Regions from separate parts of the Homo sapiens genome. Here regions 1, 2, 3, 4, 5 and 6 are each reported to be linked to region 7. Evidence: microRNA targets listed by miRTarBase, many of them from high-throughput screens and not tested one by one. Region 7 holds a microRNA gene; each other region holds the end of a gene's coding sequence.

Region 1 (4,066 bases), not on the chromosome of region 7:
CAGGTGCAGATCCAAGGGCTGTGGTAAACGGGAGAGCTTGTGTTTTTGAAGTGGAAAAAAACCCAAGAGTTTGTACAGACATCCTGTCTTCCCAGAGAAGGTGGACACTCTTGGGCTCATTGTAAAGTGCCTGCTGCATCAATAAAGCTCTTGGCTTATTAGTCTATACATTGCGGTGTGTTTCGTGTATGTAAAAAAAAATGGTAATGAATGGGATGGTAATGAATGAGAGTTCAGTTGTTGTTCCGGAAACCCGATGTGGAAGGAGTAGACCTGTGTCCCTGTTGAGCCACCCCTGGGAGCGAGCATGGCAATCCACAGGCCCTCTGCCACAGGACGCCAGCCTCGGCCTCAGAGCTGCCGGCTGCTGCAGAGAGGTGTTTGCTGAATAAACTATTTATTGTTTCTTATTCCTTTGATTTGTATGTAATTAATTTTGGAGCTTATTTAATTAATTTAATAAAGTGCCAAACATTTAATAATTGATCTAGGCTTTAAAAGTCTTCAGTTTGTGGGATTGCACTTGGAATCTTTTGAGGGTGGGGCCTCAGATGTGCCTGGTCACGTCTCCTGATGCTGGGTTGGCTGTGCTGCAGAATCACTGCTGCATGGACAAGCTTTCTTTAAAGAACTAAACGTCAGAAATGGGGAGCAATCAATCAGCAAATAGATGGTATAATTTGGTTCCCCATAACCAATAACAGAGCTTCTCTGAAGGGCAAAAATGCTTTTCTTTCCTTTTCAGCACATGTGACTGCAGCTTGCATTCTGTTAAAGGTTAGGGCCCCATTCACACTCCAGAAGCTCCTCTGGGTCATACAGCCTTTGGATACAGACTTTGACCAAAGTGACACAGTCCTCCCCTCCACAGCTCTCCCCTCCTCAGTCCCTCTTCAGAACCACTGCAATTCTTGGGGGGGGTAGAATGGGGCTGTTGGCTTCATTAAATTACGTATATTTATTCACCCAAATCCAGTCTGGGAAGGTTCTTTCTGAAAGAAAGACAAACATTCTCTAGCCCTTGAGGTTGGCCTTGGAGTGTTAAATATGAGACACAAAATACCAGATTTAATGAGTCAAAGAAATACTGACACACCAAACTAGTAAAATCCATTGTAGTTGCATCTGGATTGAAGAGCTTTAATCAAAAAGTGTATTGCACCACAGATGAATTTGCTACAGCAGTTTTCAAGAATACAATCCCTATTTACAACATGGAAGGAGAGCTCAAGATCCATCGCTCGTATAAAGGGCTATAGATACCGTCGCTAACACAGAAAGTTTTATACAAGTCAAAGTGCATTAAATCACTTAGAATATTTATTCCACTCTTCCTCTTAAAGCTGAAGGAAATTCAACATGCAGGAGGAAAGCCTAGTCAGTGAAGCCTCCCTAAAGTGAGTACAGACCTAGGAACGGGCCCCACAGCTACACCTGAAACTGCCGAGGAGTGGGGCCTGGGGTGCGTGTGGGACCAGTTCAATGGCTGGAGAAGCCACGGAGGCAGCGGATGGGCTTCTGTGGAAATGTAGCTGCCTTTGGCTGGCTGTGAGCTACCCAGTCTTAGAGATTCTTTCCTGGAACAGTTGAAAAAGGAAATCCTACTTTGAAAAAAGGCTACCTCTTACCCATCAAACTTGCAGAACAGAAGAGACTCCTGTTTCGTGTTCCCACCAGGTAAATGGAAATTCGTGTTCTAAACAAGGGATAACTGTCTGCAAGGAGGAGCCAGAGGAGGAGGTTAGTCACTGGAGAAGCGGCCTCTGGAAGGCAGAGAGCCTGAGCTGGGACTAAGGAGATGCTGCCCTGACTTGGTTCTTCATGGAAATTTCGTTAGGTTAACGTTGCAAATGCGTGTTTTTCTGTGACACATTTTATATACCTATTTTGGCCCTAAGCATGATTGAGAAATACAACTTTCCATCACTGGATAATGGATAATAAATTTAGAGGCTCCAGTTATTAATTTAGTTTTTTATTTAACCAGTGAAACTTTCATCAAACAATAAACGGTTTCCTTTTAGATTCAATATTGTGGCTTTTCCAGAACCAGCATGTTCCCTTTCCTCAGTAAACGAGGAATCCATAAAACAAGTTTTTGTTGGTTACTACCAGAGTCATGTGCATGCTACAAGTGCTGCAGCCAGCTGGGCGCCGTCTGGGTGTAGTGTCATTTTAAGTATTTGGGGTGGGATGAGGGAGAGAGAGCAGCTCCACAGACAAGGCAGACTGCCCCAGTGTCTCCATCGAGGCTGGGGGACAGCTGCTGCCCCCACTGGAGACAGCGGACTGTCCTTCAGTAGAAGACAGGTGGTCTGCATCGCCCAGCGGCAGCGCAGCACAGAATCAAGACAAAGCACACGAGATCCCACTGCACTTCAGAGGGAGCAGTGCCAGAGTGCGAGTGAGAAGACAAAGGAACAGGAATCCTAGTTTTAGGAAGAATTTCCTCTGGACGCTCTGATTTTAAGAACACCAGTTAAATGGATTTTATAGTACAGAAGACATGTTTATAGTAGTGAAGAACTTCAGCTATAAAAAATAGTTTAAAATGGTTTACCAGCAACCTATCCAAGACAAGTACATTCATTAAAAAGGCAATTGAGTGTATTTGGTACTAAGGGTCTTTTCATATATTTGCTAGTTTTCTTAAGTAAAGTGGAGATACTGTCAGAAAGGTGCATTTTCTCATTCATCCACACCGACCCTTAAAGATGGATCCTCTAAAGTTCTAGGTGGTTTGAGAGACAGGGTGAAAGAATATTTTCTTGAGAGGAAGGGATAAAAAGCTTCTAACTCATCTGAATTTTTAAAAGCCACTCCCATAGAGTTCCCATGGAGTTGGCTGTTCCTGGCAGAGGCAGGTGGGTTTGGCCTGCTGGGCACCATCTCAAAGGGCCGTCTCTACCTCCAGTAGCAGCGCTACATGGTGACTCAGGTGTGCCTGCCAGATGCTGATGGCTTCAGCTGTAAGTGCTACCGTGAAGTTAGAGGATTCAGGTGCAGATGGGGTGCTGGCTGGAGCTGGGATATTAGCAGCACTGTGGAAATCTGGGTAGTGCCAGGACCCTCCTGTTTGGTGACCAGAATGACAGGATCAGCTACCCCCTGAGGTTCAGGTCAGCCTGCAGGGAAGTGGGCCTTAGTCTTGTAAACAATGTTTAGACACTTGTACAAAATACTGCAGTTACAGTGATTAAAAACCCACCCAGACTGGTGTGTCAGTGTTCTTTTCACAGAAAAAGTGTCAACCCACGGAGCTCCATCCTTGGGTAGTCCCCTCTAGGACCATGGTATCCGAGGGTTTGAGATAGACGGCCGGATGCTGCCCTTGGGAGCTGGTTTGGACCCAAACCATGACATCTGCATTTGAAACAGAAAAGGCTTCTGAGATGCAAATCAGGACTTGGTGCCAGGGAAACTGAACCGCCCCTCCCCTCCCGTGAGCCTGTCACTCCTGCCCCCCACACATCCTGCCTCTGGCTCTGAGCAGAGCAAGAAGATGGTGCCAGTAACCAGTCTGCAGGCCCGTGCTCAGTACAGGAGGGAAATGAGAGAAAAACACTGAGTTGACAGGAACAAGGTAGTGGAACTGCAGGTATTTTTTCCTATTAGAGCATTTATGCAGACGCTTTTGGAATTTGAGTGCCGAGCCAGACCTGGGGCTCTCGATAAAGCGCTATCAATGAAAATGCTTTGAAAAATACGTGGCCTGTTGGTCAAGTACAGCACAGACATTTGGGCACAAAGGATGTCATCGCTAAAAAGTGCTTGGATCAAGTTCATCCAAAAGCAGCCAAGCTGATCATGCAGCTGTGCTGGTGCCTACACTCGGGTGTGGGTCTAAGGGGTCTTACACTGCTACTGCTGGGATAACTGACAACGTATCTTGGAAGCTGGAACAGTAGACCAGAGAACCCTACCTTATATTCCAGAGTTTCCTTGAGCATGTTCTCCTCCTCTTGGGAAAAGTTCAGCAACACTGACACAGCTTTTATAAGATGAAAAGCCTGAAACACAGTAAGTTTTGCTGCCATAGGCCTTGGTGAAGGTGAGGCGGGGTGGG
Region 2 (4,066 bases), not on the chromosome of region 7:
GGCTGGGCCCAGCCAGAGGTAGAGAGTAGTTTTATGTTTTTTAAAAATTTTTTTAAGTTTTTTTTTTTTTCCTCCTATTACCTGAGTTTCAGGCGTGGTTCCCACGCCGTCTGACAAACTCCAGAGAAACTGAAATTTCACACGTCATGAATGAAAGGCTGAGTTTACATTTGCCAAGGAAAAAAATGCAAAAGCACAATTGGGGAAAAAAGGGACAAGGTGGGTAAAACATGATAAGAGAAAGGAAATTCAACTGTACAGATGCGTGACCCTTAACAACGACCCCAGCTGCCCCCCGTGCCCCGTGCCCACCCTCCCGCCTTTCTGGACAGCCACTTACGGGTCCCACGGAAGGTTCCAGAAGCCGCCTTTCTCCCAACATCTCAGAGCAGGGGGAGCCCCCGTTGGCCTTGACTGTGGGGCACCCACTCAGTACGCAGCCAGGCCCCACGGTCCCAAGTGAACTAGAACCCATCCAGGGTCCTCGTGGCTGAGGGGACTGCCCGACCCCCTCCCAGTCTGCATAAGGGGGGGTGCTGAGCTGCACCCCAGAAAGCCACACCGAATTTAAACCCCCACCGACAGGCGGTGGCAGGAGATGGGCACGGCTGGGGTTGAACGGGGCCACCTGAGGCAGGGAGGAGCCTCTGCAGACACGGCTTCCTGCCGAGTATCCAGGACCGGGCCCCATAGACCCTCTGCAACCGCCTCCCATTTCCACGGCCAGCATGGCCACTGCCTTCAGCGACTTCCTTCTCCTGGGCCGGGACCCAGCCTCGCGCCCACCCCCCACCCACCCCGCCTGTCCCTACAATCATCGGAGTTAACAGCAGGCTCAAGTCCTCTGAGTTAGAATCCAGGTCCACCCACCGCCGGGAGGCCGGATCGCCCACAGACACGACACGCAGGATTCCCGACACACACACGCAGCCCGAGGGAGACGACCCAGCCCTCGACCCTGCACGGCCCCTCCCCAGGCTCCGAGGTGGGCAGGTGCACGGGGGCCCCAGGGGTCCAGGGCCGCCAGATGCAGCAGGCAGCCAGGCCCCAGTGGCTGCTGCAGACCCTGGTGCACGGGAGGCGGGGGAGAGGCACCCCAGGGGCTCAGATTTTGGCATCAAAAGTCAGACCTGAGGTAGACAGAGATAGGCAGCAGGCGCTTCCCCCGGCGCGGGGCCCAGGCGTGGGACGGGGGTCCCGGGAGAGGAGCCCTGGAGGCCGGGGGACAGACACGGACAGAGTCCAGGTGGTTCTGCGAGTGGGGCCCGATTGTGTCTGGAGGCAAACAGACACCCCCTTCCCGGGGTGATTGTGCTGCTACGGTGCTGGCCCCAGGAAGGGACAAGGAAAACCTAGACGCCCACCACCCCCTCCTGGAAAGGGGGTGTGTGTCCACGGCCCTGAGATCCGAGAAGGAAGTGGGGGTCCCCTCCCCAAAGACACAGGAAAGTGACAGTCCCCTCCCACAGCCCGACGGGAAAGTGAACCTAGACTCAGGGGCTCAGAAGCCCCCCAGCCCCCTCCCCAGGGGTCTCCAAGGCAATGGGGAGGTGGTTGGGAGTGGGGGGAGCTGGGGAGTCCCCTTCCTCACCAAGCCCCCATGCCGGTGGCCTAACAGGGCTCCCAGGGCCCAATTAGAGACCCAGGCTTACCCTGGGAATAGCTGAGTTAATCCCCACTGCACCCCAAGAGAAATGAAAGCCCAGAGCTCCCGTGTAGGACACGACAGCCCCGCCCAACACCACGCGGGTCCAACGAAGTCCCCAGACCCTGCTGGGCATTTCAGACCCAGCCTTTCTGCTCCAGCAGCTCCAGCCAAAATAACCCCCCAGCTCAGCTGCGGTGACCCCACTTTCTCCAAGCCAGGGGGAGGGGTACTGACCCACAGGGTGGTGGGGGGCAGCCTCCCTTCTCGGCCTCGATTTAGTCACCGCAGAACTCGGGGAGCTCGCAGCCCCAGCACAAAAGGGGTTGGGAGAAGAGGAAGGGACAGAGCGAGGAGAATGTTGGGGTGTGGGGGGTGTTCAGGATGCCGGGGCCCTGAAATCCTCACCCTGAGTGAGGTCCGGCTTCACCCCCACTCCCCAGTATTGATAGTCCTCAAAAGCAGCCCTTTCGGGCAAGAGAAGAATCCCAATGAGACGCCACATTCATCCCTGAGACAGGAGCCTGGGGGCTTCGACAAGAACCACCCCCGCCCCCCAGGCCCTTTTTCCAGCACTTGCTACTTTTTAGATAAGATTTCCAGACCGGGCCAGCGTGGCGGCTCATGCCTGTAATCCCAGCACTTTGGGAGGCCAAGGCGGGCAGATCACCTGAGGTCAGGAGTTCGAGATCAGCCTGACCAACATGGCAAAACCCCCATCTCTACTAAAAATACAAAAATTAACTGGGCGTGGTGGCGGGCGCCTGTAATCCCAGCTACTCCGGAGGCTGAGGCAGGAGAATCGCTTGCACCTGGGAGGTGCAGGTTGCAGTGAGCCAAGATCGCACCATTGCACTCACTCCAGCCTGGGCGACAAGAGCAAAACTCCGTCTCAAAAAAAAAAAAAAAAAAAAATTTCCAGGCCCCTGACTCGAGAGCCCAGCAGACAAGCACGGCACAAGCAAAAGCATCGTGGAATATCACAGTCAGCAATTCACTGTCAGGGGCCCCTGGCCGGTGGGACCCCAGCATGCACCCTCTGCCCCAGCCCGGCCCATAGCACCTGAGTTCATTGGCTCCGCGGCTCTAGCCCCAGGGATCCGATGTGCTGGGCTCACAGCTGCCCAACGCACCCCCAGAAATGGACAAAGGGACCCAAATTGGTCATGGGAAAAATAAAAAGGTGAGTTTTTTTTTTTTTTTTTTTTTTTTTTTTTTGCTTTTTTTTCTTGCTTTTTCAAGACCAGTTTCCCTGAAGGAACACAAATATATAGCTATATAGATATATAGATATCCTTTTCCTAAGGTTTGATCCCCCCAAGAATAAAATAGAATATTTACACAACAAAACCCCCGAAACCTCTTAAAAACCCTACAGAGAAAAAAAAATTTCCCAAAGCAACAAGAAAAAAACAAAAATTCAGTGATCTTGGTTCAGGGGTTTCACTGGACACGAGAAGCTGGGAGTGGTGAGTGTGTGGTGAATAGAAAATAAAAGAGAACTAAAGCAGACAAAAATGAAAACACACAGTGCAGGGATGTATGAGGTAAACAGGATCGGCCCACACTGCTGTGGGGCCAAACCAGACACCAGAGCCTTCGGTCCATCAGGGCTGCCTGAACGCCCTGGGAAACGTCTGCCTCTTTCTGTTTTTCTGATGGATTTCTTTGCTGTTCTCACAATTCATCTCTCTGAATGTCCAAAACCTGAGAAATTCAAGTGTTCCTTGGTTTTCCCCTGTTTTATTAAATTCTCTTTATATATATACGTGTATATATATATATATATATATATATCTTTTTTCTTTTCTTTTTGGCGTCAGCTGTGGCTCCTTTCTGGATATCTTCCCTCCCCACCCGTATCTTCCGCCATCCTGGCCCCTGTGTGGCCCACCTGGACCCCCTGCCCAGGCCGGCGGGCTCCAGGGTGGGTGGCGGGTGGGGAGTGATGCGGTTAAGGCAACGAGTTATTTGAGGTAGATGTGGAGGGTGTGGACAGCCCCGCTGGCCCAGCCTGGCCGCCGCTGGTTCCGGTGTTTCCTCCCCGGCCGCCTGCGTTGCTGCTGCTGCCGCCGCCGCCGCCGCCTCCTTTGTTGGGAGCAGAGGTTGGCGTGGGGGCCGGCGGCTGAGCAAACAGAACTCCTAAGGCAAGAACAGAAGACATATGCCATGCAGAGTTTAAGAAGATGCGAGGCGGGCCACAAGGGAGACCCAATGGGGTGCTCCGGGGAATAAACTTCTCTCTCACTCTGTCCCCCAGGCTAGAGTGCAGTGGTGGCATCAGAGCTCACTGCAGCCTCAACCTCATGGGCTCAAGTGATCCTCCCAGCTCAGCCTCCCGAGTAGCTGAGACCACAGGGGCGTGCCACCATGTCTGGCTAATTTTTTATTTTTTTGTTTTTTTTTGAGATGGTGTCTCGC
Region 3 (4,055 bases), not on the chromosome of region 7:
CCAACTGAAGACGGTGGGGAAGGAAAAGCTGCCAAGAATGTTGATTAGTAGCCTGTCAAAATCTGTGCACCCATCAGCTGGAAAAAGTTGATTCGTGATCAATTGTAATTCCATTACACAAATGGTGCAGAATGTTTATAATCCAAAAAATACTGTGCAATGAAACATAACATGAAGCAAGACTCTGGTCTCTGGTTTTGTCTGTTTGGGAGGTTAAATCATTATTCTTTGAGAAGGGGGTAAACATTAAATAATGCTAATTGTTCTGAAGAGGCAAGTAGAGAAAATATATGAGGGACAAACTCTCAAATAAATCTAAATAAAAAATGGTTACCCAGTCTGAATGAGCATGGGAAAGGCCATCCTCTCACCTGGCATGGACACCTGTTTTTGCTCAGGTTACTCCCTCCTCTTCTTCCACCTGGACTCCACCCCTGGAACACCAGCTTAGGCTCTGTCTCTTCCCTAACACCTTCCCTGAGTACACAATTTAGCATTTTATTTTTCTTCGAGTTTTTAGTATACATTGTGCTCCCCCTTGAAGACTAAGGGTCCTTAGGATTAAAGCCCATGCATACTCTTTGTTCCCACACATTGTCTGACAGGGCTTGGTATGCCTTTGATGAACAACATTTGTTGCCTGACTTCTGGTCACGGGTTGAACAGGAAATGGTCAGAAATCTGCTTGCTGGGCTCAAATAACCTTAGAATAATTTGAGAAGAAAGAGAAATATCCAGGTATATTCTTTTTAAGAAAAAAACTTTATTTTACAGTTTTATAAAGCGGCTTTACATTAAGCACAAACAATCCATTTACTTTGTATAGAAACAAAATACCTTTCCATCTGCAAAAAATCAAGTTTTGCTGTATATAAAACTAACATGTGCACATTGTGCTTAAACTGCAAAGTCTGTACAGCTTTACAAAGGACTACCCTTCAGAAGGGCATCCTGTAAACACTTTATTGCATATTTAACATATGGTATATAACCCACATGTACAATGGAAGAGAAACAAGAAAAGCAACCACAAGGAGGATGAAAATAGCAGCTTTCAGTGAGAGTCTGCACTGAGAAAGGAGAAGGAGCCACGTCTGGAGAGTTGTGCTTGTGTCATTTTTGCACTTGCTTCTGTGCGCTGGATGGTTCGTGGATGAAGCCTTTATGTACAATAACTCCTAAAAGGTCAAACTTGACCTTCATCCAGAAACTTTTGGCTGGTTTTACAACTGAAGTAGCAATAGATTTAACATCAAAGTGAACTCAAGATAAGTGGAAAAACAAAAACAAACCTAATACCTATAATCTTAAAGCAAAGAAAAACTTAAAGAAATAAAACAATAAAATTTAAAAATACCCTCCCCATTCTCTCTAAGCTCAGAATAAGTAAACATTTTACATAATTTAAAACCCTAGAAAATTCTGTAGTTGTTTAGAGGCAAAAATGCAATGGATAGTCCAGGGCAGTGTTCCTCCCTGTATGCCCCCAGCTCACCTGCATCAGAATCACTTGAATGCTCATTACAAATGCAGACTATCATACTTCACAGGCAGATTTACTGACTCTGGGATCTGCATTTCAATAAGCTCCCAAGTGATGCTGAGGCATTTTAAAGTTTGAGAACCACTGGTCTGTACTGACAATGCTGCTATAGATTCAACTCATCCTCTTAGAAAATTCTGGGATCACAAGAAATCAACTTGCTGTTGCAATGTGGAAGGCAGTGTAAAACCAACAGCAAGGAAATCACAACGCTATTTCTAGATCAAAACGTCTTTCCTTCTTCAGTGGAAAAGGACAGCCACATTGTTAAGGCACGATATTTGTCACAGAAGCAGTACCATACTGTTATCATCGAGTCTCATAATCTGAAGACCAGTATGCAAACAAAGCAGACGTATGAACCATTCTAAATAATAACAAATATGGGGAAGTAAAAAAGGTTCCCAGACTGGAGAAAGTTTATTTTGAACATCGGCACTGGGAATAAAAATTAGGGGAGACCAGATATTCTTGCTGAGACATCTAACATATATGAAATGCAAAGGTCAAAAGCTAGGGGTAAGCCTAATAACTCAAAAAAGTGTTTTTACTGTGAACAAAATTAAGAAGAGTGTGGTCACATCAATTGGGAGTTCAAGCTTACTTTTCTATGGCCAGTCTAATGTCTTCAGTGCAGATCTGTATCTTCTTTGCTTCTGCCCCCTTTGATGCTAACATATATATGTTTTCCAGTTTCTAAGTAGTGCTTGATAGTTTGAATTCAATTAAAATATAGTGTGTAAGCAGGTAACCTACCTGGCTCCTAAATGTGTACTTGATATAGGTCACAGATAAATGTATTGTGTTTGTCAGACTCGGTCCCCTGAAAGTGTAGGGTATCATATTTTCAAACTGTATAAGATATAGTATTGATTTAGTGTACTGTCACAGCAAAATCAACAACCCTCGGTTTTATTTAATGCCTGAAGCCCTATAGCAGACACTGCCCATTGTATGGGGGCTCTGAAATCTATTTATGTGCGGTATAGGAGGATATGTATACCTAAATAAAGATCTGATTACACATAAGTGCAGTAACATCCCTTCTATCTAATAGCTGGGATAATTTAAAATTAAATTAAAAAAAAACACCCAATGATGCACAGACTTACTAGTTTGGGAAGCTGATGATCAAGAATGATCTTGGTAGGAAAAAAAAACTTTGCTATGATTTCTTGCATATAGTATTTGATCTAATATTTTTATTTAAAGGGGGAAAAATCCTAAAAAAGTAAAATATGGTGGTGGCCTTAAAGCTACTAGCTCCTTTCCAAATTTAGATTTGTAATAAGTTTCCAAAATAATGTCCCAAAAATATCTCTCTCAAAATATACAAAACTCCAAGGTATAGTCTGAAATAAAATACAAAATTCTAGACAGTGACAAAAAGAAACTGTCACAATGGGGGTTGGGAAGGGATATACTGATTATCAAACTTTTACTGATTGTAGATCAAGTTTCAAAACAGAAACATTTTTGTAATTTCTTGTGCAGTCAACAAGTTTCATTTTAGTTGTGCTTACATTATATAACTGAAGCCTGAACACTGATTGTGTTTTTAATTTACACGTTTCAAGAAAACCATAATTAAATATTCACCATATACAACAAATTGAACAAATGCAACAAATACTCATTTGCTCCCAAGAAATTAATCTTTAGAAAGGAAACATCTTTTTAAAAAGTTGAACACAGTCTGCTATCCAGGCTACAAGTACATATTTACTGTGTTACAGCACATTATTTTTTTTAAAGTCCGCTTTCAACATAAATATAAATAATCACATTTTAAAAGAGCTCCATACTAAGTTTTCAGGTAAGTGCTAGACAGTTGGCCAGTAGCAACTACTTACCATTATCTTTCTCACATAGAGTGACTAGACTATCTGCGAAACTGTATAGGGTGATGGGCAAGGCAAAGTGAAGCATCTTTGTTCAGCCCATTGATTAAACATTGTGTTCTAAATGCCACCTACATTTCTAAATACCCAACCCATGGAATGCAATTATTTTAGAAGGCTGGTTTTAAGGATCACTTATCACTTTGATAGAATCCACAAAAACCTAGTACATAACCTTTTAAAATGTGCCTATGCTCTCCTGAGACAGAGCCTGTAGTTTCTGTGTACAGCAGAGGCTGAAGTGCAGTTTTGGTTGTGAGCTCTAGTTGTGCTTTGCCCTGCTGCCTTTAAGGTAGCTTTTCCACCTCTTGACAAATTCTTTGAAGACTGGGGACTCATCAATGGTACTGAGTAGCTGCAACTGATTGATGTGGGTGGTATGATAGTCCCAGCGAGCCAGGTTAGGAGCGATGCCAAGCATGAAGTGACGGAGGTCATAGATGGTTCCTGAGCCAGTGTCATACAAGGGCAGCATGGCTTTAAGAGATTCCATGCCACGCTCATACAAGGACCTTGCTTCTTTTCCGAGTTTTTCCCCTGCAGTTTCTTTTAAGTCATACAGCCCAATTAAAGAATACATAAAGCCATTTAAAACAAAAGAGCTAGGTGTG
Region 4 (4,066 bases), not on the chromosome of region 7:
ATGCTGGCCTGGAGCCCAGCCCAGGCCTAGAGGACCCACTCTTGGATGCAGGGACCACAGTCCTGTCCTGTGGCTGTGTCTCAGCTGGCAGCCCTGGGCTAGGAGGGCCCCTGGGAAGCCTCCTGGACAGACTAAAGCCACCCCTTGCAGATGGGGAGGACTGGGCTGGGGGACTGCCCTGGGGTGGCCGGTCACCTGGAGGGGTCTCAGAGAGTGAGGCGGGCTCACCCCTGGCCGGCCTGGATATGGACACGTTTGACAGTGGCTTTGTGGGCTCTGACTGCAGCAGCCCTGTGGAGTGTGACTTCACCAGCCCCGGGGACGAAGGACCCCCCCGGAGCTACCTCCGCCAGTGGGTGGTCATTCCTCCGCCACTTTCGAGCCCTGGACCCCAGGCCAGCTAATGAGGCTGACTGGATGTCCAGAGCTGGCCAGGCCACTGGGCCCTGAGCCAGAGACAAGGTCACCTGGGCTGTGATGTGAAGACACCTGCAGCCTTTGGTCTCCTGGATGGGCCTTTGAGCCTGATGTTTACAGTGTCTGTGTGTGTGTGTGCATATGTGTGTGTGTGCATATGCATGTGTGTGTGTGTGTGTGTCTTAGGTGCGCAGTGGCATGTCCACGTGTGTGTGTGATTGCACGTGCCTGTGGGCCTGGGATAATGCCCATGGTACTCCATGCATTCACCTGCCCTGTGCATGTCTGGACTCACGGAGCTCACCCATGTGCACAAGTGTGCACAGTAAACGTGTTTGTGGTCAACAGATGACAACAGCCGTCCTCCCTCCTAGGGTCTTGTGTTGCAAGTTGGTCCACAGCATCTCCGGGGCTTTGTGGGATCAGGGCATTGCCTGTGACTGAGGCGGAGCCCAGCCCTCCAGCGTCTGCCTCCAGGAGCTGCAAGAAGTCCATATTGTTCCTTATCACCTGCCAACAGGAAGCGAAAGGGGATGGAGTGAGCCCATGGTGACCTCGGGAATGGCAATTTTTTGGGCGGCCCCTGGACGAAGGTCTGAATCCCGACTCTGATACCTTCTGGCTGTGCTACCTGAGCCAAGTCGCCTCCCCTCTCTGGGCTAGAGTTTCCTTATCCAGACAGTGGGGAAGGCATGACACACCTGGGGGAAATTGGCGATGTCACCCGTGTACGGTACGCAGCCCAGAGCAGACCCTCAATAAACGTCAGCTTCCTTCCTTCTGCGGCCAGAGCCGAGGCGGGCGGGGGTGAGAACATCAATCGTCAGCGACAGCCTGGGCACCCGCGGGGCCGTCCCGCCTGCAGAGGGCCACTCGGGGGGGTTTCCAGGCTTAAAATCAGTCCGTTTCGTCTCTTGGAAACAGCTCCCCACCAACCAAGATTTCTTTTTCTAACTTCTGCTACTAAGTTTTTAAAAATTCCCTTTATGCACCCAAGAGATATTTATTAAACACCAATTACGTAGCAGGCCATGGCTCATGGGACCCACCCCCCGTGGCACTCATGGAGGGGGCTGCAGGTTGGAACTATGCAGTGTGCTCCGGCCACACATCCTGCTGGGCCCCCTACCCTGCCCCAATTCAATCCTGCCAATAAATCCTGTCTTATTTGTTCATCCTGGAGAATTGAAGGGAGGTCAAGTTGTTTGTCAATGATTTGTCAGAGAACCTGTTGAAATGTGAATTAAGAAGCTAAGAAAATATTTCTTAGCAACATTTTCTTTTTCTTTTTTTTTTTTTTCTTTTGAGACAGAGTCTCACTCTCGTCGCCCAGGCTGGAATGCAGTGGTGCGATCTCGGCTCTCTGCAACCTCTGTCTCCCGGGTTCAAGCGATTTCCTGCGTCAGCCCCAGAGTAGCTGGAATTACAGGCACACACCACCACGCCTGGCTAATTTTTGTATTTTTAGTAGAGCTGGGGCCACCCTGGCCCGGCCCCGTCTTCCTCCCCAAAGGTCAGACTGCAGGCTGCAGGGCTGTGCTGGAGGAGCCAGCTCTAGCTCACCCATGCTTTTGCAACAGGGTCGGGTTGGAAGTCAGCACAGGTCAGTCCTGCGGAAGGTTCCTTCGTGACTCATCTGTGAAGTGGGGTGGTTGGGAGAGGTAGCTGAGAGAATGCATGAGAGTCCTCGGTGCCTGGCAGGAGGCTGGAAGGTTCTAGAACACTGATGGTTATAAGAGTGGGACTGTGAGCCTGGGATCGGGGGGTGTGAGACTTGGATGGGAGCACAAGAGTGGAAACACAGCTTCTGCACGGAGCAGGCGCAGCCCTCAACACCCCGTGCACCTGCACCCTAGGGACTCTTGGGTCCAGATGTGCTGTGGTTTTCACACCTTCTTGGGGGCAACAGGTTCCAGGAGCCACCTGTGGGTGCCACCTGAGCCACAGGCTCCCAGGAAAGCAGCACAGCTCTCCTGCACCCAGAGCTTGCTGGGTGGCGGAGGGGAACACAGATGGTTGGGGAAGGCCTGAGGCCAGATTGGGGGACTCTGGACTGGGGCAGATGAGGCTCCTCAGAATCCCACCTTTGAAGGGAACTCAGCTTATAAACACAGAGGAGCAAAGTTGGAGGGCCGGGCGTAGTGGCTCACACCTGTGATCTCAGCACTTTGGGAGGCCAAGGAAGGTGGATCACTTGAGGCCAGGAGTTCGAGACCAGCCTGGGCAACATAGCAAGGCCCCATCTCTACAAAAATTATTATTTTTTAAAAAAATTAGCCAGGTGTGGTGGTGCTTGCCTATAGTCCCAGCTACTCGGGAGGCTAAGGTGGGAGGATCGCTGGAGCCCAGGAATTTGAGGCTGCAGTGAGCTGTGATTACACCGTTGCACTCCAGCCTGGGTCACAGATCAAGACCCTGTCTCTTAAAAATAAAAGTTGGAGACAAGAGCTGGCTCACCTGAAAGGAGGGATTAGTAGGTAGGAGGGTGGATGGAGGATGGATGGATGTGTGGGTGGATAGGAAGATGGTATTAAGTTGGTGCAAAAGTCTTTGATATTACTCTTAATGGCTTTAATAAAAAGCTTGAAGGAAGAATGATTGGTTGGATAGACAGAGATAAATGCATACTGGAAACAAAGATAAAGATAAAACACAAGTTATACCAGGCCAGCAACTCTATTTTGTTCACTGCCTTTAGTCCCAGCCTGGCACATAGTAGGCACTCAATAAAGCCTGATTTGTAGCATTTGCTTATTTCCATGGTGTAATTTCATGCTCCTGATTTGAGTCTAAACACAGAGTTGGGAAGAGATATGCACAATCTGCCCTCCTGGCTGGTATGAGTGAGTCCCAGCTCACCGATGGTAGCCCAGAGAGAACATCAAGAGGAGTAGGGGGCTTCAGGGAGGAGGTGGTGTTGGTTGGACTTCGAAAAATGAATAGGAGGCTGGGAGTGGTGGCTCATGACTGTAATCCTAGCACTTTGGGAGGCCGAGGCGGGCAGATCATTAGAGGTCAGGAGTTTGAGACCAGCCTGGGCAACGTGGTGAAACCCAGTCTCTACTAAAAATACAAAAATTAGCTGGGTGCGGTGGCGGGTGCCTGTAACCCCAGCTACTCAGGAGGCTGAGGCAGGAGAATCTGAGAGATGGAGGTTGCAGCGAGCAGAGATCACACCACTGCACTCCAGCCTGGGTGACAGAGCGAGACTACGTCTCATAAAAAAAAAAAAAAAGGAAAAATGAATAGGCGTTGTTACATGTACCAGCTATTTGGGGCAGAGGGAAGAGCTTGGACAAAGGCCTGGAGGTACGACCAAGGGTCAGGAGCAAGTGGGACAGGCGCTCCTCGCCCTCCAAAGACCAGGCCAGAATTGCTGACAAGACTCACTGAAGAGGAAGGGGGACCGATAGCAACGTCACTTTCCCAGCTGCCGCATTCCTCACCTTGCCGTCTGCAAGCTCTGAGGGGCAGAGTCATCCGTCTGACAGATGAAATGAAGGCACAGCTCAGGCTGGTGACCTGCCTGAGGTCACACACTGAATGAGTGGTCGGAGCTGGAACCAGAACTCTGGGCTTCTGATGCCACTTTCAGCTCTTTTTCACCTTGCTCTGCTGGAACGTACCTAGATCAAGAGGTGAGGAAGGT
Region 5 (4,066 bases), not on the chromosome of region 7:
GGCGGCGGCGCCCGAGGACGACGATGAAGACGACGACGAGGAGCTGCTGGAAGTGCGCCTGGTCGAGACCCCGGGGCGGGAGCTGTGGAGGATGGTCCCGGCGGGACGGGCCGCTCGGGGACAAGCGGAGCGCGCCCAAGGGCCGTCGGGCGAGGGGGCGGCCGCCGCCGCCGCCGCCTCCCCGACACCGTCGGAGGACGAGGAGCCGGAGGAAGAGGAGGAGGAGGCGGCAGCGGCTGAGGAAGGTGAAGAGGAGACGGTGGCGTCGGGGGAGGAGTCGCTGGGCTTTCTGTCCAGGCTGCCCCCTGGCCCGGCCGGCCTGGACTGCAGCGCCCTGGATCGCGACCCGGACCTGCAGCCTCCCTCGGGCACGTCGCACTTCGAGTTCCCGGACTACTGCACCCCCGAGGTTACCGAGATGATCGCGGGGGACTGGCGCCCGTCTAGCATCGCAGACCTGGTTTTCACCTACTGAGCCCACCGTCAGCGGGGCGCGCACGCCCCCAAACCAGCTGTTTACATACAGGAATCAGGTATTGGGGCCCCTCGGAGGCCGAGGCTGGCACCCCATCTCCCGCGCAGCCTGCCCCCTCCTGGACGTGCCCATCCCCCCTCAGATCCAGACATGCCCCTCCCCCGCAGACACACCCCAAGGCAGCCCAACCCCCACCCCTTCCCCGACACCCAAGCCCCTCCCCACGTCGCCCCCTCCTGCACAGCCACCAGCAGCCAGCCCCCTCCGATACACCTCCCGTCCTCTCCTACAGACCTGCACCCCTCCCCCCTTTTGCACACGCCCCTCCTCGTGGCCGGAGGACCCGCCCCCTCCTTTGCTCCGGAATCTCTCCTCCCTCGCCCGGCCCGCCTTCTCTGGGTTAGGGGGGCGATGCGGCCGGGTGGCAACGCACGCGCCTCCTGCGCCCCTCCCTTCCCTGGGGGGAGGGGCGCACCCCTTTTATCCCCGGAGCGCTAGGGCCCGCCCCTCCGCTGGGGCCCACCCCCTTCGTGCGCATGCTTAATGCTTCTGGGGAGGAGGGGGCTGGTCCCAGCGGAGCCGCACTCTTCGCCCGCTCCGGGCAAAAGCGGGGGCGAGTGTAGAGCGATCCTGGGAAATCCTTTGATCCGGGAGCCCTAGGTTTCCTCTCCAGCCAACGGGGCGTCGCTGCCTTAATGGGAGGAGCACTCGGAAGGGTTGGTTTGGGCCTGAAACTCTCCCAAGTGGCATAGCCCCTTTTCCGGTATGGGGTCTCCTACACCCACGCGCACCACCTCTCCGGTCGCGTGGCTGCCTCTACAGCCTACCTATACGTCCCTTTTTCCCCCCAACTGGGAATTGAGAGGTAAGGTCTTTCTCTGGAAATCCAGCAGTAGAGGAAGGGACCACCCAAGAAAACTAAAAACCAAGGCACCTTACCAGTCTGTCTGGGGACAGGATCCCTGCTGCACCTTCCCCACCCCCTCCTGGGAAGTGCCCCCTCACCTCAGGGCACCCGCAACCTGGGCTCCTCCCTGAGCGCACCGGCCCTTCCTGTCACCCAGGTCCACCCTCAGTACTCAAGCTGCAGTATACAGCGGGAAAAACTGAGGCACTTTGGTGCTAGGGGTTTGGGACTGAGGCGTGGAGAGCAGATGTGATGGCAGGAAGACTCTCGCTTTTAAACATCTGGTTTGGGAGAGACCATCGACTTGGCCAGTGAGACTGAGAATGGATTCCGAGTAGTGATGGGCCGTTTGCACCTCGGTTTTTCCACGTGAGAAATGGGGAGAACGCTGCTGTTAGGAGGAAGTTGTGTCCAGTTCAGGGTGCCCTCGGGAGCCCTGTCCCTGTTGCTGTGGCCCCTCTCACGCCGCCATCTCTCTGCCCCGCCCCGCCCCTCCGGCCTCCCCACACCCCCCTTGCCCTCACTACCTGTATCTCACCGGCGTGTGTTCACCCTCCCGGGTGGCTCACACACTCTCATTCACACACACAAATCTCAGGAACAAACGGTCCCAGAGTCCTCCGGACCCCTGCCCAGGGTCTCTGCAGGTCTCTGCCCCACGCGTTCCCGTCGCTGACAAAGCCACCAGCTGCCTCCTTTAAGCTTGGTGCTCCGGCTCTGGGCCTTTCTTGCGCTCTATTTTTTTTTTTTTTTTTTTTAAGAAAAACAACAACAACAAAAAAAGACAATGAAAAAAAAAACGTCATGTGAGTGAAGAGATGTCACTGTCTGTGGTCTTGGAGAACTAGTCTCGTAGCTGAGGGGTGGGGTCCCTCTGTCTGGGGCACTGGCACCCACAGCAGGACTCCGCCAGTCTGATGCCAGGACTGAATAAAGTGTATTTGCCCCGACCTTGCCCTGTGGTTCTGCATGTCTGTGCTCTTCCTCAACCCTCCCTAAACAGTTTGCCAGATTCAAGTCCGTGTGATTTGGGCCCGAGCTGGGTGTCCCAGGGCAAGCCACCTTGCCTGTCTAGGCCTCTATGTCAGGACTCCCTGGCCTTCATGAAGAATAGCAAACTCATCCCTGTAGGGACCAGGCAGGTAACATAGACGAGTGACTCTGGGTGGACAGTGGTGTCATGACCCACTTCAAGGGGCCTACCTCCTGCCAGTTGTGACCCTGTGGGAATGCAGTCCACAGTGGCCAGGTGGCCAGATTTTTCAAGAAAAGCTGGATGGATGTTTCTGAGTCATCTTAATTTCAAAATGAGACTCATATTTTAAAATTTCTGTGGGCCAAATGAAACAAGTATGCAGGCAGGTCTGGTCCGAGGGGGCTGGCTTGGCCATGCCTTTCTGTGCCTTTAATGAGGACTAAGAAGCAAGATTGGGCCACACTGTCTGGACTCAAAGCCCAGCTCCACCACTGAGCACCCGTGTGACTCTTTCCATATGTATAACGTGGGGATAATAATAATAGCTGCTTCACAGGATGAAATGAAGTTTGAGGTGAGAAGCATTCACCATGGTGCCCATCGTGTTACTCCATTGTCAGAGGAGGAAACGGGGTCAGGCAGGAAAGCAACTTAAAGGAGGGCCTGCAAGCAGCCAGGGTCAGAGACAGGGCTTGGTTCTGCTTCCTGGTGAAGCATGGCTTCGGGGTGCTGCCTCTCCCTCCCTGTTTGAATCTGCAGATTGTGTTAGGCCCCCAGCTGAGGGCCTGGAGTGGTGGGATTGGTCCCAGTGCCTGGCGCACATTGGCCTGCAGAGTAGATTAACTGAATGACCAAAGAGCAACAGAAGTCTAGTGATTCTTGTCTTTGAGGTTCTGACTGGTGTTTTACAACTGAGTCCAAGGCTTTTCCCTCCTTTGTCCCTCTGACACCCCTCCCCCTAATTCTCATCTGTCAGATCCAGTGTATTCCTAAGCTGGGACAAAGCCTCTGTTTTCCCAGTAGGAGCCAGGGCTGAGTGTGGAAATTACAGTGACTGCTTCTTCTCAGCTTCTCTGGTTGAAAGCAAGCTGGCGAAGTAAGAGGAGGTAGAGTTGAGAAGGTGTGGAAGATAGGGACAGCTGCCCCCAGAACTCCCTTCAAGGGAGGACTTCCCCAGCTATGGGAAGTGCCATCAGGGTGGCCGCAGCTGCAGAGAGCCACTTCACCTGAGACCACGCCCTTCCTGGGGCAGCCTGTATCTGGTGTCTGAGTGAGGCATGGTATAAACACCTGGTCATTTCAATCCAACATGGGACGGACACTGACAGACAGTACTCCCAGCAGGCCCAGGCCAGCCAGGGCTTCGTCAGGCCTGCAGCACAATTTGACTTCCTATGCCCAGGCCTGCTTCCTCTTCTTCCTCTTCTTTTCACAGGTGCTTATTCCTAATAAACATCTTGCAACCCAAACTCAGTCTCATTGTCTGTTTCTAGAGAAACCCAGTCTACAACAGAGGGTTCAAGAGACTGGACAAAGGGAATTGGGTCAGTGGCCCAGCAACTGCAGCTAGGCCGGTCGGATGTATCCTAATGTCAAGAGTCTGTTCACCGATGCCATCAGCACCAAACTAGGGGCTGCACACTTTCCTAGTCTGCACACCAGTCACGTCAATTAGAGACTCCAGCCTCAGCCCGAAGGCCTTCCAGGG
Region 6 (4,066 bases), not on the chromosome of region 7:
ACTAACACTGGCATCACCTGTGAGCTAGTTGGAAATGCAGAATCTCAGACCCCAACCTGGACAGGCTCACTCAGAATCTGTGAGATCACCAGTTAATTTATTTGCATGGTAATGTTAAATAGCTCTGATCTCAACACAAATGCCTCAGGGGCCAAGTAGGTCATGTCAGTAGTGAAAGTAGCCTGGTTTCCCCCGTAAAGAAAGTAGAACAATAAGAAGGCATTGTGGTGTGAAGTTTTAGTATTCTTGATTTGTTTTTAAAAATCCTGTATTATACCAGTGGGGGTTAACACATTCAACCAAATTCATCAACTAAGGTTAACTGCAGTTGACATCAATTACTTTAAGCAGATTTTTAAACACAGAATTTTAATAGTGACCCTCATATTAACTTCTTCTGATCTCTTTTAGGAATTTATCAAAGAGCTGCTTTCTCGGATAAGAGGCATGAGGAAACTGAGCCCTCCGCAGAAGAAGAGTGTATGATTCTGGAACAGGGTGAAACTCTCCCAGAGACGAAGAAAGAGTCCTGGGATTTGTACTTCATGAAGACTTTTGTGAAAGAATAGGTGTCCTTATGAACAACGTTTTTGTTTTTTTTTTTTTCTTTTTTGGTGTGAAGGTGGGGGGGTCTATTAGACATTTATTCAAGAGCGTTCTTTTTTTGGTTTTAAAGGTTTTTGTTAATGTAATATTTTAATAGCAAAGATATCATGACTCTAGCCACAGCCTAACCAAGGATTATCAAAGGAGGTGGACACTCAAGGAAGGGCCACGCCAGGCTGCGTTTCCTGCAAGGACTCAGATGTTCAGTACCTTATGATACAGGGAAGATAGTTTTCTTACAAGTAGTTTGGTAATATTTTTTTTCTTAAGTTGTACATTTGACTCAGCTGTCAAATTTCTCACACTTGTATATATCTACACACAACTAAGTTAAAATGTTGATGTGAGTTTTATTTCACATGGATGGAATAAACTTGTGGTTGTCCTTTAACTGGAGGTCCCAGCACATGTGTTTTCAAGAGGCCACTAGGCATTCTTCACTGAGTGCTGCTGACTTCAACGTTCACTTTATGCACCAAAGTGAAAGAATTCAGTGTATCCGTTATTTTAATGCACTACACCACAGAAATGTTAAGTTGGTCAAGGGCTTAATTTATGGAATTTCTATTATTTCATTGGTTGGGATGCTTTGCCAGGTCATGTGCTTATTGTCTCATTTTGTAGTCTTTTAAAGTTGTATGAACCCTTAATTTGAAGAACTAACTTGATTTCTAGAGAAATATCCACACTATCTCAGTGGTATTTTGCATTGGAAAAAGGAAGCACTGTGTAGCAGTGAATTGTCTGCTTTCCACCGAGTACTGTGTTTATTCTCTCTCCAGGAAAGCAGATCAAAAGAAAGTTAGCAGATCGAGTGTCTTCTTCCTTAGAAATAGGTTCTGGTAGCTTCTGTGCCTGGGTAGTATCAGACCAGTGGGAGTAAACCGAGTGTTAAGTGTCAAGGTGAGAAAGCCTCACATTCTCTCAAGACAGTTGCTCTAGGAGCTGAGTTGCTGGTTTGGAAGTGTGGAGATTGCATTTCTGGCTTCTCTCAATGGCTTGTGTTGAGGACTCTGGGTGCTCCTGGCCCTAATTGTGCACCCTGATCCCCGTGCTTGGAGCTAGGCCTGGTGGCGTGCTCTAGCCCTCTCAGTTACCAGCTCTTTGGAGAAGGATCAAAATTCAGATGGAATGTGGGATGGGTAATAGGTGAGAGTAGAAACCCTTCCCTCCAGGAGGCCCCCGCTGACTCCCACAGAAACCCACCTACCATAAGATGTCTTCAGGTGGCCTTGTCCAAGGATGGGGGTCAGGCATTTTATATCAAGGGTGCTCTGAACATATTTTATTTTTTAAAAAAACTATGTTTGTGAATTTTGCGTATACTGGCAAGCTTTTGAAAATGTATTTAATTTTGTATTGTTTACCAATGATTTATTTACAAGATATTTACTCAAATAAATGGAGCTGCTTACAAGCCTGTTGACATGTGTGGCTTGCACAACACGTTAACATGATGGTTTTGCTGTGTCAGTTTCTCTGCAGAGGTGAGGACCAAGCACCTCACCTCGTTTCATTTCATTTTCAAGGATTTCTAGGCATGTAATCCTGGCCCTCTCCTCAGGCATCTTCAGATCAGGTGGTGAAAGCAAAGGAGCTGGGCCACATTCTTGGGCTGAGAAAGAAGACGAGCTCTGTGTGCTCAGCCTGGCACTGTCCTAGGCCATGCTCCTTTCATTTAATTAAAACTCCTCTTTGCCATCTTACAAGAACCCTCAAAAACATTTCAAATTAGTAAACTATTCCACTTGTTAGAATGCCTTGCACCATGGAAGTCGGAAAAATACAGAATGGGCAGGATTTCTGTTAGGCTTAATTGACCAGCCCATGTGATGGTCTCAGATGAAGTAAGAATTGACTTTTCCTCCAAAGGCCTCTGCTCCCACCACACACTTCCTCCCCACCTTCCCTCCTGCCCTGATCCCCGTGAGTGCTTCAGCAAGAAGTTTGGGCCTCTTCCTTGACTCCCCAGTATGCTCCCAGTCACCCAGCTTGTCCTCTGTGAATACTTCTCAAACCTATCCCATGTCCAACTTTCCTGGATTGCTGCCACCACCTTGGGAACAGATTCTCCATGTCCAGGCTTGTCTCCCTCTGATCCATCCTCCACCCAGTTGCTAGAATAGTCTGACGACTCCACCCCCTGCTTGAAACCCGAACCCTCTGCATGCCTTATGAGAAATGTTGTCTCTGCCTCTCCCACCTCATCTTTTGGCCTTGTGCTCATGCCCAGTTCTGCCAAATTCCTTGGAGTTTCTGGCGTGTTCTATGTATTTTCTTCTCTGGTGCTTTGTAAAATCTGTTGCCTTGGCCCAGAACGCCCCCTCTGCCAACAGGCTGTATCCAGAGAGCTGGGTTAGACCCCCTCCTAGGTGTGTTCCCCCTCAGCTCCAGCCTATACTCTGTCATAGACGCATCCACAGTATCATTATTGCCTATCCATTTGTTGGTGTCTTCTGTTAGAATCTGGGATCCTCGAGGCTGGGAATCTGGACTTCACCAAGCATCTGGTCCTAGGCTTGGCCCATCAAAGAGATTGTGTGTTTGCCAGTTGAATGAAAATGACAAAAGATTCAAGAAAACTCCACTGTTTTCTTCCCAGCTAGAGTTGTGGTTCTTAGATCTGAGTGTACATTTGAATCACTGGGAAGCTTTAAAAACAATGGAAGCCTAGGCCTCAGTCAATTCTGACCAGTTAAATCAGCGTCTCCAGGACAAGAGCTGGGGTGTTTGTTTTCAAGCTCTCCAGCTTGCGCATCGCTGGGCCATTGGGTCACTCTTGTGCCATTGGATGGCCAGATGCATTAGCCTGACCTCAGCTCTCCATGTTTATGCTATTACAGCAGGTGGCAGCTGTGGTATTAGCACACTCACTATTTCTCATACAGAGTCTTCTCACTAGGGCAATGGCTCCAAATTATCCAACTTCTAGTGCCGCGCTCACTTGAACATTGGGAAATCTCAATGTAAACTTCATGGAGTGGCTTCCATTTATAACGATCATAATAAAAGCACTGTGCTAAGTGCATGCTTTATCTCATTTAATCCTGACCTTAACCTTATGAGGCAGGTGGCATTCTCATTTTACAGATAAGAAAATAAACTCAGGCTTAGCAGCTTACCTAAGTCCACACAGCTACAACACTGAGATTCAAACCCAAACCTATTTGGCTCCAAAGTCCCATAACCATTAGACTTTCTTGCCACTCTTAGGGAATTACTCTTAGTCCCACTCACAAGAGTGAACCCCAGAAGCCACATTTAAAGTGAGCCAGGTCCCTGAGCTGGCAGGGTAGGGGAGGAGGCCTTGTGGATGGAGGAGATCCCAGCCACCTGTGGGGCTCTTCCTCACTCCTGGGAACTGAGGGACTCCCTGCTCCCCATCTGCAGTGCAGCCAGGCCCTGTGATGCTGGCCCTCCTTATCCAGAGTCCTCTTGCCTTTTCCCCATAACATAAAGC
Region 7 (4,066 bases):
CTGTGACTTAATTGTGGACTTTAATTGTTTTCATAGTTTTTTTCCCCAAAAGAAGGTTACTTTACATATTTTATTTTATTTTTATTTTTATTTTTTTTGAGACAGGGTCTCACTCTGTCGCCCAGGCTGCAGTGCAGTGGCATGAGCTCAGCTCACTGCAGCCTCCACCTCCCAAGCTCAGGGATCCTCTTACCTCAGCCTCCCGAATAGCTGGGACCGCATGCACCACCACACCCAGCTAATATGTTGTATGTTTTTAGAGGTAGGGTTTTGCCACTTAGCCCAAGGCTGGTCTTGAACTCCGGGACTCAAGCGATCTACCCATCCACCTGCCTCGGCCTCCCAAAGTGCTGTGATTATAGACATGAGCCACTGTGCCTGGCAATTTTACATATTTTAAATTAAAGCAAATCTTGGTTTTTGATGGAATGCAGATTTACTTATATTTCACTTAGTCTTTTTCCTTTCTTTCAGAAAAGTGGTGTGGAAACAAAATGGTTTTAGTATATTGCCTTATAAACAAATTTAAGATCATGAGTTTCTTTTATTATCCTCTTTGTTTTGCTCATTTCCTTGAACTGTACATCCCTAACCTAAATCAGCTGGAGACAGGGGAAGAAAGTGTTAGATTCTTACTCAGTTTAGATCCTCTGCCAGGAAAACCCACTCTATTCATTGTCAACTAAATTAACGCTTTTTTAAATAAAAGGAGTCATTTTTAACAATAACGTCAGGGCAGCAGGCATCCATGAAATGTATGGTCACTGATCATTAGGGTTATCATTCTAATGTGTTTACTATTTTGAAACTCTAGGGAGAAGAAAACTTATTTTTGCATATGTTGGAAAAATGTATCCTCATGTAGGATATCAGGGTAATATCTTTAATGTTTCATACTTACCAAGATAAATTTGTAATGCGTATTTTCTTTTAAAATTAGATTTATTTAGGAGAAATTGCACTTGGTGAACCACTTTCTCTTTAATTATTAGCATTAACTTTATCATTTTTGTTTCAAGATGTCACAGCTATTGTTCAGCACTAGAAATTATATAAATTATTAGCTGAAGATGATGACTGGCAACATTTATGTCTGTTCCTCCTCTTAAATTTCTTGTTCAGAAAGTCTGTTGTTGTAAACATCCCCGACTGGAAGCTGTAAGACACAGCTAAGCTTTCAGTCAGATGTTTGCTGCTACCGGCTATTCACAGACATCCTCTTGATATAATTCTGTCCCGGAGTGGAGTTGAGGAGGCTATAAAATGTGTGGGAAAACCTCAGAAATCTTTAGCTGCATTCTTTTACTGCACTGACAGTGCACGTATTATGATAGTTGAATGTAGGGTGCTCTCCTAATAACAGGATATGCCGTCTCGAGCTTCCCAGACTTAGCGTGCTGCTGCTGGGCCTTAGAGAATTTAGTTAAATAAAAAGTGTCACCGCCTATTCCTGTTTCTGCCCTGTCAATGAAATTTTAGTCTTTATAACCTTTCCAAGTAGGCTGGAGTTTAACATCCCAACAATTCAGGAGACTGATTTTCTCCATTGTAAATTCTGTGGAAGTTCTGGAGAATAATTTCATCACTACCACCCAGCAGTATGCAATCTAGAAATTTCAGCTTTCCCTATACTTAAAAGAGATGTGTGTGCAACATTTTTCTCCGTCCTCTTAGCCCCCCACTTCCTGTTCCCCTCACCCTGAGTGATATTACAGCTCCTAATCAGAACTCTCCTCTAAGAAAAACTGCAAGACGTCAAGCCACTAAGCCTGTTTACATTTGCTAATGGGTATGCATGTCTTTTTATATTAATATTTTTCCTAAGTATTTTCAGATTGTTGCTTTCAGATTTATTGCTTCCTCCTTAAAATATAGCTGCCCTGAAAGCAGCTGTATTGTATCTATTTTTTGTGTTTCCCCACAGATCTGAATAATCCAGGGCTTTTCTCACAGATGACACTCAGTGTGGACTAATTGATAATGTATAATTTTATAGCAACTATTTTCTGAGTTTTAAAAAATTGTTATTTTATTTCTGTTAGTCTTTCAGACACTGGAAAACATTTCTATTTTATTGGCATTTTTCTTTTCAATAAAGCATTGGTTTTTTTAAATCATTTATTTTTATTAAACTGCTAAACATACTATGTTAGGTTCCATACATGATTAAACCACCAAAAGATAAAGGTCTTGCCAATCTAATGTATTTACATGCTTATTTTCTTTGATTAGATTATAAGCTTTCTGAGGTCAGAGACATTAAATCTTGATAATTCTATTTTTTCCTGTTATAAACAGCAAGTAAAGCACCTTGCATGTATAGTACTTTAGTAATGATTTTATATTATCTTATTGCAGCAGTGTCTACTGTTGCCTCTTATCTTTTATCCAGATGAGCAAATGACAGTTTTGGTCATAATGTAGTTACCCCAGATGTATTTGTGCTACAGCTTTTATTTTTTAAATGCTCTTTTGTTAGAGTAGTAGTTTATAAGACTTATTTGGGGATGGGGGTCAGTTGCTTCAGACTCAGGTGGCTTTCCAACTTGTAAATACAATTTTCAGGCTGGATGATTAGCATGCATCAAGCATCCCTTCCTATGAACTCTAAATAAAGCAGATTTATTGCATATTCTGTGGCCCTCTGTTTTAGCACATTGGAAACCTTAGACTCAAATAGCAGTGAAAGGATAGTTATTGCTGAGCTCAGAAGTCTTCCCTGCCAAAGGTAGAATGTAATGTGTTCTGTGGTAATAGGATTATTTTGTTTGACCAGGTGACACTGTTTATTTCTTATGAAAAATTTTGATATACTGCTTTAAAATTTAGTAAGATGGATGCATAATTTATGCAGTGAAATTTGAAAGGTTTTTCAAAATGATAAGGCCAAACCTAAGCTAAATGAGGGGGTAGGCATTCTTTATAATAAAGCTGTTATACTCTGCCCAGCTAGGCCAGTTATCCCTAGATGCTACAGATTAATGGGGCAATCTGTGTTATGTAACATTTGTTCTATATTATTCTGCCTCTAATGAGGTGAATCAAAGACGATGTCAGTTTTAATTCTGGATGCCCTTGCTTCAGTATAGTATAATACATAGGTACAGCCTTTTTTAGTAGTTTTCAGATGGCTTCTTTATGTTTTTATATTGAAGAACCACTAACTTCCCATTGGCCTATAAGGTTAGCAATTGATTATTTATAGCAAATGGCTTGAAATGTTAGATCATCAGTATTTGTCAATAAGCCTGTAATAACTTGTTTCCCTAGCCCTTAACTTAGTGTTGAAGAAAAAAATTGTGGTATTCATTGATAGGACTTAGAAAGCACAGAAATTACTTATTATTTAAGATTTGTTCTACCAATTGATATTTAAAGTAAAACATTTTTAGTTACTGAACACCATTCTGTAAATGACAGTATTTTATCCTGAGTATATGGTCTGAAATGACTTAGGGACAACTTTTTAAAGCAAATAACTAATTACAAAATTGGGTCTTCCAATTTATTTCAAATTAGATGCTTTTGTACAAATATTCTTGGTTAGAAATAGTCATATAAATACACTGTTGGACTTGTTCTCATTGATCTCCACACCTCAGTTCCTTCTACATGAGTCATGGGCTTGAGGTTACCCAGAAATGGACTGTGAACCTATAAACCCCAGCATGCATGTGGTATTGCGTCGAGCATGTTCTGTGATTCCCTTCTACTCTTGTTACAGCTTTATTCATTGGATCAATGTGCATTATTTGCTGTGTGTGCTCAGGTAATATTTTTGTTTCTTTTTTTTAGTTTGAATATCAGTTTGGGCTTAGTTACTTTTTAAAATAAGGCTGTTTCAGATAGTCTCTGCCACACTTTGCCTAGCCTGGTTAATTGTGGGTGGACCCATGCTACATGTTTTGGCATTGCCTTTTTCTTATCTGTACCATATTACAAACTTCCTAGTAATTTGACATTCACTGCTGTCTTTGCTTTAGCTTTCCAACAGGTTTGGTGAAACAGTCCATTGCTGTTCAATATCAGCTTGCATCAGAATTACTTGGAGGGCTTATTGATTAAA

Evidence for each region. Region 7 holds the annotated microRNA hsa-miR-30d-5p (UGUAAACAUCCCCGACUGGAAG, at 1,135-1,156, shown strand). A microRNA usually pairs through its seed, bases 2 to 8, with sites in the 3' UTR of a target mRNA and lowers its output. Matches are read on the target gene's strand: a 7mer-m8 pairs with bases 2 to 8, a 7mer-A1 pairs with bases 2 to 7 and ends in A, and an 8mer does both.
Region 1: the mRNA of GOLGA1 is a reported target of hsa-miR-30d-5p. Seed matches in the 3' UTR shown: 8mer at 3,150-3,157.
Region 2: the mRNA of ARID3A is a reported target of hsa-miR-30d-5p. Seed matches in the 3' UTR shown: 7mer-m8 at 3,193-3,199.
Region 3: miRTarBase lists GLCE as a target of hsa-miR-30d-5p. Seed matches in the 3' UTR shown: 7mer-m8 at 1,387-1,393 and 8mer at 953-960.
Region 4: miRTarBase lists IL21R as a target of hsa-miR-30d-5p. Seed matches in the 3' UTR shown: 8mer at 529-536.
Region 5: miRTarBase lists SOX12 as a target of hsa-miR-30d-5p. Seed matches in the 3' UTR shown: 8mer at 514-521.
Region 6: the mRNA of PPP1R14C is a reported target of hsa-miR-30d-5p. Seed matches in the 3' UTR shown: 7mer-m8 at 1,967-1,973.

What each region holds. Positions count from the first base shown.
Region 1 is chr9:124,877,248-124,881,313 of GRCh38, forward strand. It overlaps GOLGA1 (golgin A1), which reads right to left. Exons shown (of 23, transcript NM_002077.4): 22 at 3,924-4,010; 23 at 1,028-3,363. The coding sequence ends at 3,283. ARPC5L (actin related protein 2/3 complex subunit 5 like) reads left to right here. Exons shown (of 6, transcript NM_030978.3): 6 at 1-486. Among named protein-coding and RNA genes, the nearest start is that of ARPC5L, 17 kb to the left of the region's middle. RefSeq lists an enhancer at 3,537-4,066.
Region 2 is chr19:971,599-975,664 of GRCh38, reverse strand. It overlaps ARID3A (AT-rich interaction domain 3A), which reads right to left. Exons shown (of 9, transcript NM_005224.3): 9 at 1-3,787. The coding sequence ends at 3,600. Among named protein-coding and RNA genes, the nearest start is that of WDR18, 11 kb to the left of the region's middle.
Region 3 is chr15:69,268,896-69,272,950 of GRCh38, reverse strand. GLCE (glucuronic acid epimerase) reads right to left here. Exons shown (of 5, transcript NM_015554.3): 5 at 744-4,055. The coding sequence ends at 3,707. Among named protein-coding and RNA genes, the nearest start is that of PAQR5-DT, 28 kb to the left of the region's middle. RefSeq lists an enhancer at 287-844.
Region 4 is chr16:27,448,880-27,452,945 of GRCh38, forward strand. It overlaps IL21R (interleukin 21 receptor), which reads left to right. Exons shown (of 9, transcript NM_181078.3): 9 at 1-3,163. The coding sequence ends at 404. IL21R-AS1 (IL21R antisense RNA 1) reads right to left here. Exons shown (of 3, transcript NR_037158.1): 2 at 3,864-4,043; 3 at 1-927. Among named protein-coding and RNA genes, the nearest start is that of IL21R-AS1, 2.5 kb to the right of the region's middle. RefSeq lists enhancers at 127-366, 629-1,506, 1,167-1,326, 1,347-1,396, 1,737-1,886 and 1 more.
Region 5 is chr20:326,398-330,463 of GRCh38, forward strand. It overlaps SOX12 (SRY-box transcription factor 12), which reads left to right. Exons shown (of 1, transcript NM_006943.4): 1 at 1-3,827. The coding sequence ends at 475. Among named protein-coding and RNA genes, the nearest start is that of SOX12, 2.9 kb to the left of the region's middle. RefSeq lists silencers at 1-284, 645-714, 755-1,044.
Region 6 is chr6:150,248,335-150,252,400 of GRCh38, forward strand. PPP1R14C (protein phosphatase 1 regulatory inhibitor subunit 14C) reads left to right here. Exons shown (of 4, transcript NM_030949.3): 4 at 412-2,058. The coding sequence ends at 486. Among named protein-coding and RNA genes, the nearest start is that of PPP1R14C, 110 kb to the left of the region's middle.
Region 7 is chr8:134,802,009-134,806,074 of GRCh38, reverse strand. It overlaps MIR30D (microRNA 30d), which reads left to right and starts at 1,130; the gene lies at 1,130-1,199. It also overlaps a transcript of ZFAT not described here.